3 linked regions of the Homo sapiens genome follow. The protein of the gene in region 1 purifies or fractionates together with the protein of each later gene. This does not show direct contact. Each region holds a gene or a part of one and is shown in the gene's direction. Other genes may lie near its edges. The genes, in order: GMEB1, DHRS2 and MATN4.

What was found.
Region 2: the proteins of GMEB1 (region 1) and DHRS2 purify together in Homo sapiens (affinity purification with mass spectrometry; 2 studies listed by BioGRID and IntAct, with this or other methods). This does not show direct contact.
Region 3: the proteins of GMEB1 (region 1) and MATN4 purify together in Homo sapiens (affinity purification with mass spectrometry; 2 studies listed by BioGRID and IntAct, with this or other methods). This does not show direct contact.

The regions. Positions count from the first base shown.
Region 1 is NC_000001.11:28,664,829-28,671,865, forward strand, and holds the start of GMEB1 (glucocorticoid modulatory element-binding protein 1), read left to right. Parts: upstream 1-3,955; 5' UTR 3,956-4,011; intron 4,012-4,389; exon of another isoform or gene 4,390-6,367; intron 6,368-7,037. UniProt on the Homo sapiens protein: Trans-acting factor that binds to glucocorticoid modulatory elements (GME) present in the TAT (tyrosine aminotransferase) promoter and increases sensitivity to low concentrations of glucocorticoids. Also binds to the transferrin receptor promoter.
Region 2 is NC_000014.9:23,632,064-23,639,441, forward strand, and holds the start of DHRS2 (dehydrogenase/reductase SDR family member 2, mitochondrial), read left to right. Parts: upstream 1-4,300; 5' UTR 4,301-4,709; intron 4,710-6,330; exon of another isoform or gene 6,331-6,354; intron 6,355-6,763; 5' UTR 6,764-6,801; coding exon 6,802-6,941; intron 6,942-7,115; coding exon 7,116-7,293; intron 7,294-7,378. UniProt on the Homo sapiens protein: NADPH-dependent oxidoreductase which catalyzes the reduction of dicarbonyl compounds. Displays reductase activity in vitro with 3,4-hexanedione, 2,3-heptanedione and 1-phenyl-1,2-propanedione as substrates.
Region 3 is NC_000020.11:45,298,290-45,305,394, reverse strand, and holds part of MATN4 (matrilin-4 isoform 1 precursor), read left to right. Parts: intron 1-597; coding exon 598-1,167; intron 1,168-3,951; coding exon 3,952-4,074; intron 4,075-4,170; coding exon 4,171-4,293; intron 4,294-4,385; coding exon 4,386-4,508; intron 4,509-6,811; coding exon 6,812-7,105. UniProt on the Homo sapiens protein: Major component of the extracellular matrix of cartilage.

The DNA.
Region 1 (7,037 bases):
TTTGGGAAGCTGAGGTGGAGTTCGAGACCAGCCTGGCCAACGTGGTGAAACCCCATCTCTACTAAAAATATAAAAATTAGCCAGGTGTGGTGGCATGTGCCTGTAGTCCCAGCTACTTGGGAGAATGAGGTGGGAGAATCACTTGAACTTGGGAGGCAGAAGTTGCAGTGAGCCGAGATTGCGCCACTGCACTCCAGCCTGGGTGACAGAGTAAGGCTCCGTCTCGAAAAAAAAAAAAGAAAGAAAGAAAGTAAAGAAAGGATCCCAGTGCCAGGTCCTATAGACCATGATGGGGAGTTCACAAGCAATTTTTTTTAAAGGGGATAGGAGGCCACTAAAAGAATTAAGAATGAAGACTCAAAGGCAGCAAGACAGGAAGTAGGGAGACCAATTAGGAGGCACTGGCTGTGACAGAGGCAGATGATGATGATCTGGACCAGTGGGGGTTAGAGAAGAGATGATATTCTAGGGGTCTTTGGGAGGTGACTGAGAGATGAGGGCAACATTCCCTGAGGTGGGGGACACTAGGACAGAAGCAGGTTTGTTGAAGACATCTAAGGTGGGTGGGGAAAGAAACAAATTCAGTTGTGGGCATGTGGAGTATGGAGAGTCGGTGGACAGCCAGAGACACTGTTCCAGGCTGGAGGAGAGACCAGATGATGCTTGAAGTTTTTGTCTTTTAAAAAATCAGTTGCCAGAAGTGGTGGCTCCAGGCAGATCACCGGAGGTTAGGAGTTTGAGACCAACCTGCCCAACACGGTGAAACGACGTCTCTGCTAAAAATACAAAAATTAGCCAGGTGTGGTGGTGGGGACCTGTAATCCCAGCTACTTCCGGGGCTGAGGCAGGAGAATCACTTGAACTCAGGAGTCAGAGGTTGCAGTGAGCCGAGATGGCACCACTGCACTCGAGCCTGAGTGACAAGAGTGAGACTCTGTCTCAAAAAAAAAAAAATATCAGTTATAGGCCAGGAACAGTGGCCTGTAATCCCAGCACTTTGGGAGACCGAGGCGGGTGGGTCACCTAAGGTCATGAGTTTGGGGCCAGCCTGGCCAACATAGTGAAACCCCGTCTCTACCAAAAATACAAAAATTAGTCAGGTGTGGCAGCACATGCCTGTAATCCCTGCTACTCAGGAGGCTGAGGCAGGAGAATCCCTTGAACTCAGAAGGTAGAGGCTGCAGTGAGCTGAGATTGTAGGGCCACTGCACTCCAGCCTGGCGACAGAGCGAGACCCCATCTCAAAAAAAAAAAAAAAAAAATCAGTTATCATCCAGGCACGGTGGCCCACGACTATAATTCCAGCACTTTGGGAGGCCGAGGTGGGTGGATCACTTGAGCTCAGGAATTTGAGACCAGCCTTGGTAACATGGTGAAACCCCAGCTCTATGAAAAATACAAAAAGGAGCTGGGCGTGGTTGTGCAAGCCTATAGTCTCAGCTACTCGGGAAGTCAAGATTGGAGGATCACTTGTGCCCAGGAGGAGACTCTATCCTCCAAAATAACTAAATAAAAATAAATGGCCAGGCACGGTGGCTCACGCCTGTAATGCCAGCACTTTGGGAGACTGAGGCAGGAGGATCACGAGGTCAAGAGATTGAGACCATCCTGGCCAACATGGTGAAACCCTGTCTCTACCAGAAATACAAAAATTGGCTGGGCGCGATGGCTCATGCCTGTAATCCCAGCACTTTGGGAGGCCAAGGCAGCAGATCATGAGGTCAAGAGATCGAGATCATCCTGGCCAACACGGTGAAACCCCGTCTCTACTAAAAATACAAAAAATTAACCAGGCGTGGTGGCTCGTGCTTGTAGTCCCAGCTACTCGGGAGGCTGAGGCAGGAGAATCGCTTTAACCTGGGAGGCAGCCAAGATCGCACCACTGCACAGACCGAGACTCCGTCTCCAAATCAATCAATCAATAAACAAACAATTATGGTGGCTCACACCTGTAATCCCAGCACTTTGGGAGGCCAAGGCAGGAGGATTGCTTGAGCCCAGGAGTTAGAGACCAGAGTGGGCAACATGGTAAAACCCCATTTCTACTAAAAATGTAAAAATTAGCCAGGCATGGTGGTTCCTGCTTGTGGTCCCAGCTACTCCGGGGGCTGAGGCAGGAGGACTGCTTGAGCACTGGAGGCTGGGGCTGCAGTGAGCCGAGATCCCGCCACTGCACTCAGCCTGGGAGATCAACCCAGACCGGTCCCCCCCACCAAAAAAAAGAAAAAAAGAAAGAAAAGAAAAGAAGGGCCGGGCGCGGTGGCTCACGCCTGTAATTCAACACTTTGGGAGGCTGAGGCGGACGGATCACAAGGTCAGGAGATCGAGACCATCCTAGCTAAGACGGTGAAACCCTGTCTCTACTAAAAAATACAAAAAAATTAGCCAGGCGTAGTGGCGGACGCCTGTAGTCCTAGCTACTGAGGAGACTGAGGCAGGAGAATGGTGTGAACCCAGGAGGCGGAGCTTGCAGTGAGCCGAGATTGCGCCACTGCACTCCGGCCTGGGCGACAGAGCAAGACTCCGTCTCAAAAAAAAAAAAAAAGAGAAACTTACTTAGTAGGGTTGCTGTGAGGATTATACAAGACAGAAGCATCTTCACCAAGCCATAGGCCATAGAAAGGTCTTTTTGTTTGTTTGTTTTTTGAGATAGAGTCTCACTCTGTTGCCCAGGCTGGAGTGCAATGGCCTGATCTCGGCTCACTGCAACCTCCGCCTCCCGGGTTCAAGTGATTCTCCTGGCTCAGCCTTCTGAGTAGCTGGGACTAGAGGCGCGTGCCACGACGCCCGGCTAATTTCTGTATTTTTAGTAGAGACGGGGTTTCACCATGTTGCCCAGGCTGGTCTCGAACTCCTGGTCTCAAGTGATCTGTCCGCCTCGGCTTCCCAAAGTGTGGGATTACAGGCGTAAGCCACCACACCTGGCCATAGAAAGGTCTTAATACGGCCGGGCGCGGTGGCTCACGCCTGTAATCCCAGCTCTTTGGGAGGCCCAGGCGGGTGGATCATGAGGTCAGATATTGAGACCATCCTGGCCAACATGGTGAAATCCTGTCTTTACTAAAATACAAAAAAAAAAAAAAATTGCCGGGCGTGGTGTCGCGCGCCTCTAGTGCCAGCTCTTCGGGAGGCTGAGGCCGGAGAATCACTTGAACCCAGGAGGCTGAAGCTGCAGTGAGCCGAGATCGCGCCACTGCACTCCAGCCTGGCCAAAGAGCAAGACTCTGTCTAAAAAAATAAATAAATAAATAAAAAATAAAGGTCTTAATACTTGTTAATTACTATTACTGACCCCAGGAACTCTCTGAAGCACTTTTCATGCAGGTATCACCTTCTTTAGCACTCACATTATGTCTTATCGGAAACAGGTTTAGAGCTGTCAAGAAATTCCTCCAGAGTCGTTTACACTTCCAGCAGGGGAGTCAAGACTTCAACCCAGAAACTCACAAGCAGGAAAAACTTGGCAAACAGGCACGGGTCAGACAATGCTTAGGGCTTGCTCAAGGACTCGTGACCAGTTACTGATCTATGCAGATCTTCTGATTGCAAACTGATAGCTGGATTGTAACTTGAAGGGTCCGATAAGATGTAAACTTCATAAAACAGGATTTGGGGAGGTAAATGGAGTAGAGTCCTCCAGAGGAGTCGAGAAAGCTAGCTTGGCCCTCAATTGTGGTTGAGGTGATTCTTTCATTTAGGGCCTATTTTCCTCATCTATGAGTGCGGGAAGGAGAGTTACTGGGGTCTCTAGCGACCTTTCCAACACTGATTTTCAAGGGCGAAAGAATTCTGCTTAGGTAAGGCCCAAATCCCTTGGCTAAGGTTAATCCTCGGTGGGACCGGCAATAGGGACGCGTCCCCTTTAAGGCGCCAGCTCTCCGGCGGCGGCGGCCGGAAGTGTTGAAGCCCGGCCTGGCGGCGGCGGTGGCGGTAGCTGCCGTGGCGGCCTCTGCGCATGCTCCGTCGCCTGCCCGCCCTGGCCGCTCGCCGCCCGCCCGCCCGACGGAGACGGTGAGGAGGGGGAGGGGTGGGCGCGCGGGCGCGGGGTGGGGTGGGGGCGGGGGGGCGGGCGCGGGGGCCGCGCGGCGGCCGGCGAGGGCGGGCGGGCGCGCAGGGGGCGGGGGGCTGCTGCCTCCGCGGGCGCCTCCCCACGCCCTGTGCGTGCCGCCGCCGCCGCCGGGGAGCGAGCGGACGTCGCGGCGCCGCGGGGGGGTGGGGGGACGCTGCCGCTGGGTCCGCCCGAGCCGCCGGGCCGCCCCCAGCGCAGCCGGCCGCGCCGCCGGGGCTCGGGCCCCAGACCAGGGCGGCGGGAACCGGCGAGTCCACCACTGGGGGGGCCCCGGCGCCCCCGGACCGAGGGGCCCGGAAGTACTCGGCTCAGGGGCCAGGAGGGGCCGGAGTGACTCCGGACTGAGAGGGCCAGGCGCCCAGGACCCCATCGAGGGGTCCGGGGAGCCTGGGGTATCCCCAAAGGCGGGGTCCGGGGAGCACCGGGCCCTTGGATGAGGAGCTGGTTGGAGGCCTGGGTCCTGCCCAGTGGGAGGGGGACGATAGGTGCTGGAAGCCCGGATGCCCGCCTGGGAGGAGACCCTCTCGGAGCCTTGGCGGGAGAGCAAGAGTACAGAGTGGGTTCTTCTGAGGAGAGCAGAGTCCAGCTTATCCCGAGGGGCGCGGTAGAGGCCTCGGCCACTCAGAACAAGGGAAAAAAGGGCAGGTTTTTTCCAAAGGCAGGGAAGGAAGAGGAGCTCTAAGGGGAAGTGAGCAGGCCCAGGTCTCCCCACAGATGAGCGCGTGGTAGGAAGACTCCTAGAGCCTCCTGAAGTACGAAAGAGCAGCGTCCAAACCTGAGGGGATGGAAGGTGTCTAGGTGCCTCTTGATGTCTAGGTGGAGAACAAAGTAACCCGCTCGGTCAGGGGATGGAGAAACCTATCTTTTTGAGAGAAGCAGAGATCGTTGAGGAAAGATGCTTAAGGTGTTCCCGCTTTCTGAAATGACAGGAATTGGCCAGGTGTTATCTAATTGAGGGGCAGGAGAGATGAAGGCAAAATCTCAACCCGAGGGTCTTTGGAGGATGATCCACAAGACAAGAGGGTGAAGTCTTGACCTAGACAGCAGAGCAGGCGCAGCCCTGGATTCTCTCAAGATGAGAGAAATCTCAAAACCACTTCCTAGTAGACACAGATGGGGCCTTGATTGGTGTCTGTTTAGGCCAATCAAGACGGGTTTTAGGAAAAGAGACTGTCAGACATAATTCTAGTCTTGAGGGATTATCTTCTTCCTCCTTGCCTCTTCTAATAGTTACCAAAGTGCATTTGGGGACCCTTTTTATTTATTTATTTATTTATTTGTTTTTTGAGACGGAGTCTCACTCTATCGCCCAGGCTGGAGTGGTGGCTCACTGCAACTTCCGCCTCCTGGGTTCAAACGATTCTCCTGCCTCAGCCTCCCGAGTAGCTGGGACTACAGGCGCGTGCCACCACACCAGCCAATTTTGTTGTTGTTGTTGTTGTTGTTTGAGACGGAGTTTCACTCCTGTTGCCCAGACTGGAGTGCAATGGCGCGATCTCAGCTCACTGCAACCTCCGCCTCTTGGGTTCAAGCGATTCTCCTGCCTCACCCTCCCGAGTAGCTGGGGCTACAGGCGCCCGCCACCACACCCAGCTAATTTTTGTATTTTTAATAGAGACGGGGTTTCACCATGTTGGCCAGGCTGGTCTCGAACTCCCAACCTCAGGTGATCCCACATCCTCAGCCTCCCAGAGTACTGGGATTACAGGCGTGAATCACTGCGCCTGGCCCAACCAGGCTAATTTTTTTGTGTTTTTAGTAGAGACGGGGTTTCACCATGTTAGCCAGGATGGTTTCGATCTCCTGACCTTGTGATTCGCCCGCGTTGGCCTCCTAAAGTGCTGGTATTACAGGCGTGAGCCACTGCGCCCGGCGGGGGAAACTTATTCAATGGTTGCACCGTCTCCTAATTTGAGAGCCTTATATCAAGGATGTATATTTAATATCTTACTTAAATGATTTTTTTTGGGTTCCTATTTACTTCAGCAAATACATTGTATAGGTAGCTTCTACTCAGCTTCATTGGGTTTATTGTGGGGGCAGTATTTTGGTCTTGCCCTAAGCCAAAGTCCACCGGACTGTAGCGGGATGACTCCAAATAACTCTTATCCCATCGCTCCCTCAAACATCTACATAATAGTCTCCAGTCTGTGACTTAGAATTTCACCTCCTCTGGATACTTCCCTCAGTGTTTCTGCATAATTTACTTGTTGACCTCATTACATCTTGTAGCACTATGGATCACCCACTGAATGCATGAGAAGAAATAAAGGGGATATCAAGGAGTTTTGGCCTCAAGTAATAATAAAGTTTTAACTTGGATTTTTCCCCCCGTTTTAAACAAAACTGTAGTTTAGAGTGGAAATTTCTTTTTTATTTTATTTTTTTGGGGGAACAGAGTTTCCCTCTGTTGCCCAGGTGAGAGTGCATTGCGGGATCTCAGCTCACTGCAAACTCGATCCTCTCAGCTCAGCCTCCTGAGTAGCTGGGACTACAGGTGCGTGGCACTGCGCCCGCCTAATTTTGTTAGTTTTCTGGCGGGCGCTGTGATTTATGCCTGTAATGCCAGCACTGTGGGAGGCCGAGACAGGCGGCCTCCCAAAGTGAGCGGCCTCCTCGGCCTCTCTTTAGCTCGAGTTCCAGACCAGCTTGGGCAACATGGTGAAACCCCGTCTCTACAAAAAATGACAAAAATTAGATGGGCGTGGTGGAGCTAGTTGCCTGTGGTCCCAGCTACTCTGGAGGCTTAAGTGGGAGGATCGCTTGAGCTCCGGAAGTCGAGGTTGCAGTGAGCCGAGAGCGCACCACTGCTCTCCGGCCTGGGTGACAGAGTGAGACTATGTCTCACTAAAAAATAAATAAATAAATATATAAAAAATAAAACGACTACACAGTCTTCAAAAGTTATAATAGAGTGTGGAATAAATAAATATTTTGGGCTGGGCGCGGTAGCTCACGCCTGTAATCC
Region 2 (7,378 bases), on another chromosome or scaffold:
GCCAGACTTGCTGAGCTAGGAACACATCTCACAGGTGCTGTTACTCTAGCCTTCCAGCAGGGGGCGTCCTGTCCCGACAAAAGGCGAGTCCTCTTTTTCCTGCTGTCCTCCCAGCCAAGGAGACTGGATTCCTCTCAACCTCAAAAGGGGGTTAATCTGAGCTCGCAGCAGAAGGAGAGGAGTTCCCCAGGGGGGGCATAACAATGTTCAGAATCTGGTGTCCTGTTTAGAAAAGGTAGACCAATCAGGAGCTGAAACCCCTTGTCTCCACGTAATGCAAGGCTGTAAATATGACCTTGCAGGAAGGAGAGAGGCGTGAGAGAGTAAGCGAGAGCAACAGCAGGCAGAGTGGAAGCAGCTGGGAGGAAAGAGGGAGGAGGTCTAGGACCTACAAAGATTGTTTTTGGAAATACAATATCAGAAGAGATATAAATCGGAAATCAAGGCTTCCTTCCCAAAGCAAAGCATTTGGTCGCCTGCATTTTGACACTGAGTACAGACTGATATTTAATAGACAGTTTCTTCACAATTCCTGAGCAGCACCCATTCACTTATAATTTATAGATACAGACCCCTAACTCGAAGGAACTGAGTTATGCAAGAGTTGCTAAGGAACAAGGGGAGATGCAGTAGGTAAGGCAGGGGTTGCTTAGTAACCAGGAGTCCCTTGGTGATGGAGTGGCCAGAGCATGTCTGGAACTGATGAGGGTCTGTAGACAGAGTCATCCCAGGCCAGAGCCTCCTGCAAGTTCACATCTGTCGGCCCCTTGGCCCAGAGCTGCCAGAGCCTGCCTCTCTTCACCTTCCTGGCACTGTCCTGTCCCACATGAAAAGCACACTGCTAAGTCCCTGAGTGCCCTGCTAACTAACCCCTTGCTGGAACCACTCCTTCCCTCCCTCTCTCAACAGGAAGCTCATCAGATTCTTCCATTAGAGTAGGGAATGGCAGGCCAATGGGAATCCCACATAGGGGAAGGCAGGAGCCTCTGGGCTAACATGAATGTGGAGCTGGGAAATTAGGATTTGGGTGAAAGAGGGTCTCCTAGACAAGCATCCCTGGCATTTTCCAGTTCATGGTGATATATCTTCATACCTGAGTCTCCCATGCCAGATCCTCTCCCTGCCTTCACATCTGCGCATAGCTACAGAGGCACACCGTTCCCTTCTGAAGGGCCTCCTGAGGGCACAGGTCTCCACACAGCAGCCTGGATGTCTGTGGCTGGTTTAACTGGCTCAGCTCCACGGACATCCCTTCAGAGAGCTTCAATCAGCACCGGCCTGCTGGAGTCATTCAGAACTGCAGTCTGCTTTCTCAGGCATGAGCCCCCCATTCTCTGTATTCCAGGCACATAGGCATCCCTGCTCTCTCCCAAACACCCTGGACATCCACACCCTCCATTCTTCCTCTCAGCCTGTTCCCCTTGACAGGAGGATCTATCCTGTTGCTGCCCCTGTCAAAATCCTCCTCAGTCTTGCAGGTCCTATCTACCTGCAACTTTCCCAGCCTGATTAGCTCACCAGCCTTATTGAGCACTCCTGTGTTTCAAGCCCTGGGCCCCAAGAGGGAGGAGTGGAGCCTGTGTTCAAGGAACTCACATGACACTCATTACTGATCCTCTGCTTCCTGGCTAGGATACTCCATGAAAGCCCTCTGTGAACTGAATGTTTAAAATCAGAAAGTTTTGCTTATTTAAAGCAAAGCCCTTTGCATAGAACAACTTTGAGAAAGTATCTGAGATGCTGGCAAATTTTCTTCTGAGAAGGGAATTGGAGGATTTAATTTTTGAATTAAGTTTTAAGCTGCTTGAATTTTAAAATTTACCATGAGCAGGTAATCTTTACTTTTAAACTTTTAAATTGTGAATTATAACACATACGTAAAAAGTATACACATACATAGGTGATATAATATATCTTCATGGACATCATGTAGGCATCACTTGCTTATCAAATACAACATTGCCAGCACGCTAGAAGCTCTTTAGTTTGCCCCTTCTTTTTTTTTTTTTTTTTTTTTTTTTTGAGACGGAGTCTCCCTCTGTCACCCAGGATGGAGTGCAGTGGTGCAATCTTGGCTCACTGCAACCTCCAACTCCTGGGTTCAAGCGACTCTCCTGCCTCAGTCTCCCAAGTAGCTGGGACTATAGGCATGCGCCACCACACCTGGCTAATTTTTGTATTTTTAGTAGAGATGAGGTTTCACCATGTTGGCTAGGCTGGTCTCCATCTCCTGACCTCAAGTGATCCCCCTGCCTTGGCCTCCAAAGTGCTGGGATTACAGGCATGAGCCACCGTGCCTAGCCTGTTTGCACCTTCTTAATCATAACTGCCTCCCCACAGCTCTACTGCGGAAATACCCACTCTCCTCACTTTTGTGGTGATCACTGCCCTGCATTTCTCTGTATTTTTGTCACCTGTTTGCCTTCTTAAGCAATATAGAATTGTTTTACCTGTTGTTGAAACTTGTGGACTCAAATAATATGTATTCTTTTGTGTCTGACTTCTTTTACTCAACAGTATATTTTTTAAGATTCCTTTATGTTGTTCAGTGTGGCTTCAGCTCATTCATTTTCATTATTGTATAGTATTCCATTATAGAAATGCAACACAGTTTGTTTATCCATTCCACCGTTAATAGGCATATAGACTTTGATATGGTTTAGGTCTGTGTCCCTGCCCAAATCTCATGTCGAATTGTAATCCCCAATGTTGGAGGAGGGGGCCTAGTGGAAGGTGATTGGATCATGGGGGCAGATTTCCCCCTTGCTGCTCTTGTGATAGTGAGTGAGTTCTCATGAGATCTGGTTGTTTGGAAGTGTGTAGCACCTCCCCCTTTGCTCTCACTTCCTCCTGCTCCAGCTGTGTAAGTTCTGCCTGCTTCATTTCACCTTCTGCCTTAATTGTAAGTTTCCTGAGGCCTTCCCAGCCATGCTTCCTGTACAGCCTGTGGAATTGTGAGTCAATTAAACCTCTTTTCTTTATAAATTACCCAGTCTCAGGTAGTTCTTTTTTTTTTTGAGACAGGGTCTTGCTCTCTCTCCCAGGCTGGAGTACGGTGGTGCAATCTCAGCCTACCACAGCCTTGACCTCCTGGGCTCAAGCAATCGTCCCATCTTAGTCTCCCGAGTAGCTGTGACTACAGGCATGCACCACCACACCCAGCTAATTTTTATAGAGACATGGTTTCACCTTGTTGCCCAGGCTGGTCTCAAACTCCTGAGCTCAAGGGATCTGCCCACCTTGGCCTTCCAAAGTACTGGGATTACAGGTGTGAGCTACCGTGCCTGGCCTCAGTTAGTTCTTTATAGCAGTGTGAAAACAAACTAATACAGACTTGTTTCCAGTTTGGAACATTCTAAGCAGGCTTCTCTGAACCTGTGTGTACAGTCTCTTGGTGCACACATGACCTCCTGTCTGCAGGATGCAAGTTCCCTCTACAGAGTCAGAGATCTTTATTTTCAACTTCTCCGTATAATGCCAAATCATTTCCCAAAGTGATTGTACTTACCCTCTACCCAGCAGTGAATGAGAGTTTCTGTTGATTTTGCTTTTTCAACTAGAAGTGAGAGGTGACAATATGCTAGCAGCCCTTGCTCACTCTTGGTGCCTCCTCGTCCTCCACATCCACTCTGGCTGCACTTGAGGAGCCCTTCAGCCCACCACTGCACTGTGGGGGCCCCTCTCTGGGGCTGGCCAAGGCCGAAGCCAGCTCCCTCTGCTCGCCAGGAGGTGTGGAGGGAGAGGCGCCGGCAGGAGCCCACACTGTACAGGGCACTCACCGGCCAGCAGGGGCTCCGTGGGCCGGCCGGTGCCAGCTGGGCCTGACTGGGGGATGAGCTCCCTCTGGGCTGCTGGAGTGCCTGGGCTAGGTGCCGCAAAGTCCTGCAGTGTGTGCCATTGAGAGGTGAAGCCGGCTGGGCTTCTGGGTCCGGTGGGGACCTGGAGAACTTTTCTGTCTAGCTAAAGGTTTGTAAATGCACCCATCAGCACTCTGTGTCTAGCTAAAGGTTTGTAAATGCACCAATCAGCAATCTGTGTCTAGCCAATCTGGTGGGGACTTGGAGAACTTTTGTGTCTAGCTAAAGGATTGTAAATGCACCAATCAGCACTCTGTGTCTAGCTAAAGGTTTGTAAATGCACCAATCAGCACTCTGTCAAAACGGACCAATCAGCTCTCTGTAAAACAGACCAATCAGCTCTCTGTAAAATGGACCAATCAGCTCTCCATAAAATGGACCAATCAGCAGGATGTGGGTGTGGCCAGTTAAGGGAATAAAAGCAGGCTGCCTGAGCCGGCAGCAGCAACCTGCTCTGGTTCCCTTCCACGCTGTGGAAGCTTTGTTCTTTTGGTCTTCATGATAAATCTTGCTGCTGCTCACTCGTTGGGTCCGTGCCACCTTTAAGAGCTGTAACACTCACCGCGAAGGTCTGCAACTTCACTCCTGGGGCCAGCAAGACCACGAATGCACCGAGAGGAATGAACAACTCTGGACACACCATCTTTAAGAACCGTAATACTCACCGCAAGGGTCTGCAACTTCATTCTTGAAGTCAGTGAGGCCAAGAACCCATCAATTCCGTACACATTTTGGTGACTTTGAAGAGACTGTCACCTATCACCAAGTGGTGAGACTATTGCCAAGCAGTGAGACTATTGCCAAGTGGTGAGACCATCACCAAGCGGTGAGACTATCACCTATCGCCAAGTGGTGAGTACCATCAGATCCCTTTCATTTGCTATTCTGTCCTATTTTTCCTTAGAATTCGGTGGCTAAATTCTGGGCACCTGTCGGCCAGTTAAAAGTGACTAGCGCAGCCGCTGGACTAAAAACGTGGGTGTCAGGCTTTCTGGGAAAGGGATCTCTAACAACCCCTGGCTCTGTGGAGTTGGGAATGTTGTTTTGCCTGGAACCAGCTTCCGCTTTTCCTGTACTTCTGGGCTGAGCTGAGGGTCAACAGAGAGGAAAGCCATTCAGCTCCGGAGTCCCCACAACAAGTTGGTTGACCCTGCGGCCATGAGCGGAACTCTCAAAGGCATGTTGCCCAAGTGAGACTCACCTATCTATCCTATCTATCCTGACCCTTGCTCGCTGGGTCCTAATGCCTGCCAGACAAACTTTCTCTCTCCTCTCTTCTCCTAGGCTAGTCCCACTTCTAAAAAACCACTCCCTGTCTCTGGTGCTTTTCTAATTTCTCTTATAAGAATGATTTCTAGTAAAAATTTCAGGACTCTGTTACCTTCTTTAGGCACCTGGGCTCACCAATCAGAAAGACATAATTTTTGCCCAAAGCCCAGTTGTAGGGGGAACTATCTGGAATTTTAGAATCCCTCCTCAGATAAGCAGGTCTAACAAAAGCTATTCCTGAAGCTAGGATAGGGGGAGCCTCAGAAATTGTATCCTTCCTATTCATATAAGTGAGGACAAAAGGTGTCACTTTTCCAACCCTGGAGACCCCTTCCCTCCCTCAGGTTACTCTTCTTCATTTTTGGGGCATAACATCTTTATAGGACACGGGTAAGTTCCCAATACTAACAGGAGAATGCTTAGGACTCTAACAGGTTTTCGAGAATGCGTCGGTAAGGGCCACTAAATCCGATTTTTCTCGGTCCTCCTCATGGTCTAGGAGGACAAGCAAGGGTGCAGCACTCTATGTCTAGCTAATCAGGTGGGGACTTGGAGAACTTTTGTGTCTAGCGAAAGGATTGTAAATGCACCAATCAGCACTCTGTGTCTAGCTAAAGGTTTGTAAACACAGCAATCAGCACTCTGTCAAAATGGACCAATCAGCTCTCTATAAAACAGACCAATCAGCTCTCTGTAAAATGGACCAATCAGCAGGATGTGGACAGGGCCAGATAAGGGAATAAAAGCAGGCCACCCGAGCCAGCAGCAGCAACCTGCTTGAGTCCCCTTCCACACTGTGGAAGTTTTGTTCTTTCGCTCTTTGCAATAAATCTTGATTCACTGCTGCTCACTCTTTGGGTCCGCGCTGCCTTTAAGAGCTGTAACACTCACCACGAAGGTCTGCAACTTCACTCCTGAGGCCAGTGAGACCACAAACCCTCCAGAAGGAATGAACAACTCCAGACGCACTGCCTTTAAGAGCTGTAACACTCACTGCGAAGGTCTGCAGCTTCACTCCTGAAGCCAGCAAGACCACTAACCCACCAGGAGGAATGAACAACTCCGGACGGGAGGAATGAACAACTCCGGATGGGAGGAATGAACAACTCCGGACACACCATCTTTAAGAACTGTAACACTCATTGCGAGGGTCCGTGGCTTCATTCTTGAAGTCAGCGAGACCAAGAACCCACCAATTCCAGACACAGAAGCAGTTAATTAATAACTGGTATAATTATTTGTTGGTGCCTGGCATCTCATTTAACTGGGAAGCTGCATGGTTGGGGTCCAGGGCTGAGTCTGTCGTTTACTAAGGTGTCCCCGCCTCTACTGCCCAGTGCTTGACACATTGCCAGTGCTCAATGTTTGCTATGCAATGGATGGAAAAATCACCCTTGTCTAATGAATGTTGAGTCTCACATTTTAATTTGTGAATAATTTCCCCAGTTTTATAGCTTAGGAGTTTTCATGGATTGCTTTCCTGACCTGAGGTTCACATGTTTGAAATTTACCCTAACCAGCCTGACTCTCTGCCACTTTCTGTTGCTGGCCTTGTCTGTCTGGAGGAAGGAGGAGGGTAGATTACCTTCATGCTCACTGAGGCATCAGTGATAAGTGAAATTGATTCTTTCCCCCAGGCCTGATTCAGCAGGAAGCATCTCAGACACCAACCACTATGCTGTCAGCAGTTGCCCGGGGCTACCAGGGCTGGTTTCATCCCTGTGCTAGGCTTTCTGTGAGGATGAGCAGCACCGGGATAGACAGGAAGGGCGTCCTGGCTAACCGGGTAGCCGTGGTCACGGGGTCCACCAGTGGGTGAGTGCTGGATTGCCCATGGGTCCTGGCCCCTCACAGGGTCCTTGTGGCTTCCACAAGGACTCAGGGTTTTAAAGCAAGACCCAGCCTTATTTGCTGATTTCCAGAGCTGGGTAGAGGAAGGACAGTGGAGAGAGGCTGAGGCTGACTTTTGCCCTCCATCTCTGCATTCAGGATCGGCTTTGCCATCGCCCGACGTCTGGCCCGGGACGGGGCCCACGTGGTCATCAGCAGCCGGAAGCAGCAGAACGTGGACCGGGCCATGGCCAAGCTGCAGGGGGAGGGGCTGAGTGTGGCGGGCATTGTGTGCCACGTGGGGAAGGCTGAGGACCGGGAGCAGCTGGTGGCCAAGGTGAGGGGGCAGGCGGTGGAAGGACACAGAGAGGGGAACATGCAGAACCTTTCCTTCACTGCTTGGCCCTTGTGGGGTGGGTCTA
Region 3 (7,105 bases), on another chromosome or scaffold:
CTGGGTTTAAGTTCCCCACTTCACCTTTCTGGGCCTCAGTTTCTTCATCTGTAGGATGTGGCTTAGTTTTGGGCGCATGCAGAACTGCCCATGGGGTGTTTAATTTGGAAAAATTATTTGAAAACATGGAAAAAAACCAGGAAATTTTACATAAAAATCCCTGTTTAGTATTTCTCTTGAAAAACCAGGGATCTGCTGACATCCAATTCGCAGGGGCATGGCCTCATTTGGATGCAGCTACCTGCCCAATTTAGGAGTGATAGGGGCTCTTTGGGTCTCCAGCGTCCTAACCCAACCAGTTCATCCATGTTCCCTGCCTGGTCCCTGCAGGCTTTGAGTTTGCGACGCTTCCTTGCCCCCTCGTCAATGGGTAATACCGCCTCAGAATAGCCCTCAGATCTGTAAGATGAGGGAATTTGTGAAATCTCCTAGCCCAGGTGCTAGGCACATGCCGGGCGAGTGCATCTGTCTAATCTGCGTTTGCTGTGCTGGGCGCTGTTATGTCGGCATAGCGGCATTTCCCCTGGGTTTCCTAGGGGGTCTCCTCGGAGGTGAGGCTTTGCTGACCTAGGAGAGTCCTCCCTGATCTCCCCGCAGGTCCCAGGTGTCACACTGGGCCCCTGGATCTGGTGTTCGTGATTGACAGCTCCCGCAGCGTGCGCCCTTTCGAGTTCGAGACCATGCGGCAGTTCCTCATGGGCCTCCTCCGAGGCCTGAACGTGGGTCCCAACGCCACGCGCGTTGGCGTGATCCAGTATTCGAGTCAAGTGCAGAGCGTCTTCCCTCTCCGCGCGTTCTCTCGCCGCGAGGACATGGAGCGCGCCATCCGCGACCTGGTGCCTCTGGCGCAAGGCACCATGACGGGACTGGCAATCCAGTACGCCATGAACGTGGCCTTCAGTGTGGCCGAGGGCGCGCGACCGCCAGAGGAGCGCGTGCCGCGTGTCGCTGTCATCGTGACAGACGGGCGGCCCCAGGACCGCGTGGCCGAGGTGGCGGCACAGGCGCGCGCCCGCGGCATTGAAATTTACGCGGTGGGGGTGCAGCGCGCGGACGTGGGCTCCCTGCGCGCCATGGCATCGCCCCCGCTAGACGAGCACGTCTTCCTCGTAGAGTCCTTCGACCTCATCCAGGAGTTCGGCCTGCAGTTCCAGAGCCGGCTGTGTGGTGAGTTAGGAGGGCGCTGGAGTGAAGCTCGAACTCTCAATCCAAATGCTTGGATTCCTTTCCCACCACAGTAAATCCCATCCCGTGGGGGTGGCCCCGCGATTTCCAGGTAGAGTTGCCCTGACCTACCGCAGGCTGTGTCAGATTTCAGCTCTGACCACTTCTGCTCAGCCTCCATCAACAAGGAGCAACCTATAATTTCTTGCCCTACCCGCCACAGCTTACCACAGGCTTAATGTCAAATTCCAGCACCAACCCCCTGCACACACGGAACCAGTGATTCTCAAAGCTAAGAGGGATCGGCTGCTCCAAAGAGTCGTGGCCCTCCCACATGGGGATGACTTCTCCCATTATCATCTTAGCTCCTCCCACAAATGCTGCAAGATCTGTTCTGATCTGTTTTGAGTTTATTCCGCCCACCTCGACTTAGCACCTCTCCACCTTCCTACCCACTCCTGCCCCTGTGTAGTCCTGTCCCAGCCCACTGACGTGTCTAATTGAGTGTCTCCTCTTCTGAGCCTACTCACAGGGGCTCCTTAAGCCTTATTCTTTCCCTAAGCCCTCTCACTTGGTACGGCCCTTCTCAAATTAGTCATTTCCTTCTGAAAGCCATTTGAGGGTGATGCCTGCCTCTGACCCCATCCCCATCCAGCTCTCTCTTGTTGGAGGCTTCTGCCCATCTGTTCCCTACTGATTCTAGTCCTGTGTGTCCTCAGGGAAGGACCAGTGTGCTGAGGGGGGACATGGTTGCCAGCACCAATGTGTCAATGCCTGGGCCATGTTCCACTGCACCTGCAACCCAGGCTACAAGCTAGCAGCAGATAACAAGAGCTGTTTGGATGACAGCTATCCCTGTCCTGCAATCTCACTGCTCCTGAACCTTCTTTGGCTCTCCATTGCCCCAACATCAGACCAATGAGTCTGGAAGGGCCTTTGGCAGTAAAAGCACACCTCCATCACTTTACAGGCCTAAGAAAGAAAGGTATTGCCTGGGGTCACATAAGTCCCTGGTGGGAGCCCACAGTTCAGTGTGCTTTCTGCCCTCTTTCTCCCTGTTTTCAGGCCAGTCTCTAATCAACCTCCCAAACTTGTTTCTGTTTTCTTCTTTTCTTTTCTCTCTCTCTTTTTTTTTTTTTTTTTTTTTTGAGACAGAGTCTGGCTCTATTGCCCAAGCTGGAGTGCAATGGTGCGATCTTAGCTCACTGCAACCTCCGCCTCCCGGGTTCAAGTGATTCTTGTGTGTCAGCCTCCCAAGTAGCTGGGATTACAGGTGCTGGCCACCACACCCAGCTATTTTTTGTATTTTTAGTGGAGATGGGGTTTCACCATGTTGGCTAGGCTGGTCTCGAACTCCTGACCTCAAGTGATCTGCCCGCCTTGGCCTCCCAAAGCGCTGGGATTACAGGCGTGAGCCACTGCGCCCGGCCATTTCTGTCTTCTTACAGGCACATCCTTACAGTTTCTCTTCTTAGATACTGTTGGGGGGTCTTCAATTAGGTGGGTGTCCCCCCTCATGCCACCCATTCTTGACTCTGCACCTCAGCTCTTTGTGTGCTGCTCACCTGAGCTGCCCTTGCCACTCCCCTCTGCCTTTGCAAATCTTTCAAGACTCTCTCTTTTTAAGAGATAGGGCCTTGCTATGTTGCCCAGGCTGGTCTCACACTCCTGGGCTCAAGAGATCCTCCCGCCTTGGCCTCTCAAAGTGCTGGGATTACAGGTGTGAGCTGCTTCTTCATTTTTGTCTTCTGAAAAGCTATGGCATAGAATACCTCGCTTATTCAATTCAGTTTTTTACTGAGTACCAAGTTAGTATTAGACATTGTGCTAGGAGCATTACACATGTTATTATCTCTCAGCCTCACAACAACCTGGAAAAAGAAATCATGTAATCCCAATAACCCAGATGTCAGCTGGGGTCTTCTTGTTTCTAGAAACTAAAAGTTGGCTTGAACTCTGATTTGATGACTGTTTAACATTCAAATCTCTCTCCAAGACCTCTGGAAATCCCCCAAGTGCTTATCTTCTGGTTGTCACCTCTTGCTGTGAGCCTCTGCTAAATTCATTTGATTTATGGATCCTCTCTCATTTCTCAACCCTGCACATGCTGTTCTTGTTCCATGCATGTTAATCAACCTCTTCGTTGGTTTACACACTTGTGTATGCAGGGGCATACACAAGCGTGTATGTGCTAAGTAACTCATAGCGCGTGCACACACACACGAAAAACTCATTATAATTGAATATTAGACAGCTTTGTTTCTGAAAGTCCTCAGTCAGCCTAGTACAAGGGATTTTTCACAGGCAGCCTCAACCCACAGAGTTACTCATCTTCATACTGGCTCTCTTGTTCTTTTTTTTTTTTTTCTTTCCTCTCTCCACTCTCATCTCCTTTCCAGGAACCCCAAATACTCACTTTTTTATACAGGGTAATTATCTTCTCTCCAGTCCAGCTCTCGGCCATCTTTGCCTATCCAGATCATCAAGATGCTCAACAGGGCAATAGTTCCCCATCTTCCATGGAAGGAAGCTGTGAATAGCAATCACTGTCTTCCATTATATTCCCATTTTGCAAATAGAAAAATGGAGGCTCAAATAGGTAAAGTGGCCAAACCTGTCCTCTGTAAGTCAGAGAGCATCTTGAGGACAGGGGCCCTGACTAATTAGGTCAGGATTTTTGGGGTTGGGGCCCAGGCGTAGGTATTCTTTAAAATTTCCTTAGGTGGTTGTGCTACCAGAGCTGAGAAGGGCAGTCCTGGGCATAGACTGACCCCATTTCTTCCTCAGCCATTGATCTGTGTGCTGAAGGGACCCATGGATGTGAGCACCACTGCGTCAATTCCCCAGGCTCCTATTTCTGTCACTGCCAAGTTGGCTTTGTACTCCAGCAGGACCAGAGGAGCTGCAGGGGTGAGCAACACCCCCACCCTCCCACCACACCCTGGACTGTGGCCTCCGAGGGCTCCAATCAGAGGCAACATCTTGCTGTTTCTTCCCTCCTGCCAGCCATTGACTACTGCAGCTTTGGGAACCATAGCTGTCAGCATGAGTGTGTTAGCACCCCTGGTGGGCCACGGTGCCACTGCAGAGAGGGCCATGACTTGCAGCCTGATGGGAGGAGCTGTCAGGGTGAGGAGGGCTCTCCTACATTTGTGGGAGGGGTAAGAGATCTTAGCTGGTGGGGTCCATCCTGACTCATCCTGACCTGTCTCTCCTTTCAGTCCGGGACCTTTGCAATGGCGTGGACCATGGCTGTGAGTTCCAGTGTGTGAGCGAGGGCCTCTCCTACCGCTGCCTGTGCCCCGAGGGGCGGCAACTTCAGGCAGATGGCAAGAGCTGCAACCGTGAGTGATGGGCGGGAGGGTGTTCTGTTGGCTTCTGCCCCATTGCCCACATTTGGAGTGTCCTTGACTTTGCCATTGCTGTGGCCCCTAGGCTGTGGTGTGAATGTCTGTGTGTGTTGTGGGGGTGACATTGGAGGGTGTGCCATTCCCTCCTTCCATCTCTTTCCTACAATCCTCTACTCTGCTGTCAATGTTAATTTAAAAATACATATTTGATCACATTCCTCCTTTGTGCACAAGCCTTCTGTGGCTCACCAATGACTACAGGAGAAAGATCAAATGACTTACCCCTAAGTATTTCAAATGGTGAGCAGAACCACATTAATGAATAATGAAATCAAATTACTGGGTTACAACCAACATTAAAAAAAAAAGAGTGGAAGACAATATAGAGTTTACTGCCTGTAGAAAGAGTTATATTATTTCTGAAATTTTAGTTCTGTGTGAAATGTCTCATGATGTATTGTCATTATTATTATTTTTACTGTGGGCTGTGATAAAAATTTTGAAACCACTGCCTTAGGTCATCACGATCTAGCTTCAGCCAACTCCATCTGCCCATCTCCTGCCACACTTGAACATTTCAGTCTTACTGGCCTGCCCCTCCCCGGATGTGTCAGGATCTCCCCAGATCCCAAGCCTCTGCACGTGCTGCATCTCACCTTCTAGACTGTCCCTTACTGCCTTGGCAAACTCCTACTGATCTTTCAAGACTGTCTTAGATCATTCAGGCTGCTATATCAAAGTACTGTAGACTAGACATTTAGTTTTCACAATTCTGGAGGCTGAGGAGTCCAAGACCAAGGTGCCAGCAGATATGGTGTCTAAAGAAGGCCTGTTTTCTGATTCTTAGATGGCACACCTTTCAAAGCCTCCCCACGCCAACACACACACACACACACACACCCCTACACACACACACCCACACACACCAATTTTCTTGCTGTGTCCTCACATGGTGAAGACAGGAAGCAAGCCCTCTTCGACTTTTTTTTTTTTTTTTTTTTTTGAGACTAAGTCTCCCTCTGTTTCTCGGGCTGGAGTGCAGTGGCGCGATGTCGGCTCACTGCAACCTCTGCCTCTGGGGCTCAACTGATTCTCCTGTTACAGCCTCTGGAGTAGCTGAGACTACAGGTGTGCCCCACCATGCTTGGCTAATTTTTGTATTTTTAGTGGAGATGGGGTTTTGCCATCTCAGCCAGGCTGGTCTCGAACTCCTAACCTCAAGTGATCTGCCCGCCTCAGCCTCCCAAAGTGCTGGGAGCCACCATGCCTGACCTCTTCAGACTCTTACAAGGACAGTAATTTTACTCATAAGCGCTGTACCCTCATGTCCTCATCTAATCCTAATTAACCTCCAAAGATCTCACCTCCGGAGACTATCACATAAAGGCGTAGGGTTTCAATAAATGAATTTTGGGAAACACACTCATTCAGTTCATAACAAAGATCAGATAGAAGGCCATCATCTCCATGCAGCCTTCCTTAACAACTCCAGGAAGAATACACTATTCCTACCTTGGGATCCCTGCATGATCTTCTCTTCTAGCACTTTCCTTGACCAGAGCACATAGCATGTCTGACTTGCTCTGCTCTGTCCTCATGGAACAGGATTATGTTTTAATTATTTCAAAACCTTTGAAAACCTCCCCACGCCAACACACACCACATTTTGGGCCTAGCAACTTTCCTGGCTCAGAATAGGGGAGGTGACATTGTAGAGTCATTCAGGAGCATGGGTTTTGGAGTCAGATGGACCTGGCTTCATGTCTTGGCTCAGTCAGTACTAGCTATGAAATCTGGGGCAATCACTTTATCCATCAGAACCTCAGGTCATAGAAAATGGGGACAATATTCAAGCTTATTGGGAGGATTGAGAATATATATAAGCACTTCACCCAGTACCTACCACATGGTAAGCTGTCGGTAAATAATGTTTTTGTTATTATTATTGTTAATACTGGTAGAGTGCTTAGAAGTGTGCCTGATACATAGTAGATGATCAATAAATGGTAGTTATTGTGGTCATTACTATGATTGTTGTTAAAAAAAGATGCTTTTAGCAGAGTGGTTTGTTCTAAGCACTGAATAAATGTCAAGGGCGATGATGAGGGTGATGATGATGGTGATGGTGATGATGATGGTGATAATTATTATTACTTAGCACACTGCCTGGCACAGGAAGGACTCAGGAAATGTTGTCTGTTATATAATAAATGTTTGCGAATGAACGACTAGATGGATAGACAGCTGCTGCCAGTCCAGAATCTGGTCCCTCAATTCAAGCTTTTCTGGCTGTGCAGGGTGCCGGGAAGGCCACGTGGACCTTGTTCTGCTGGTTGATGGCTCCAAGAGCGTGCGTCCACAAAACTTCGAGCTAGTGAAGCGCTTCGTGAACCAGATTGTGGACTTCCTAGATGTGTCCCCCGAGGGCACGCGGGTGGGGCTGGTGCAGTTCTCGAGCCGCGTGCGCACCGAGTTCCCTCTGGGTCGCTACGGCACCGCAGCCGAGGTGAAGCAGGCGGTCCTGGCCGTGGAGTACATGGAACGCGGCACCATGACAGGGCTGGCGTTGCGGCACATGGTGGAGCACAGCT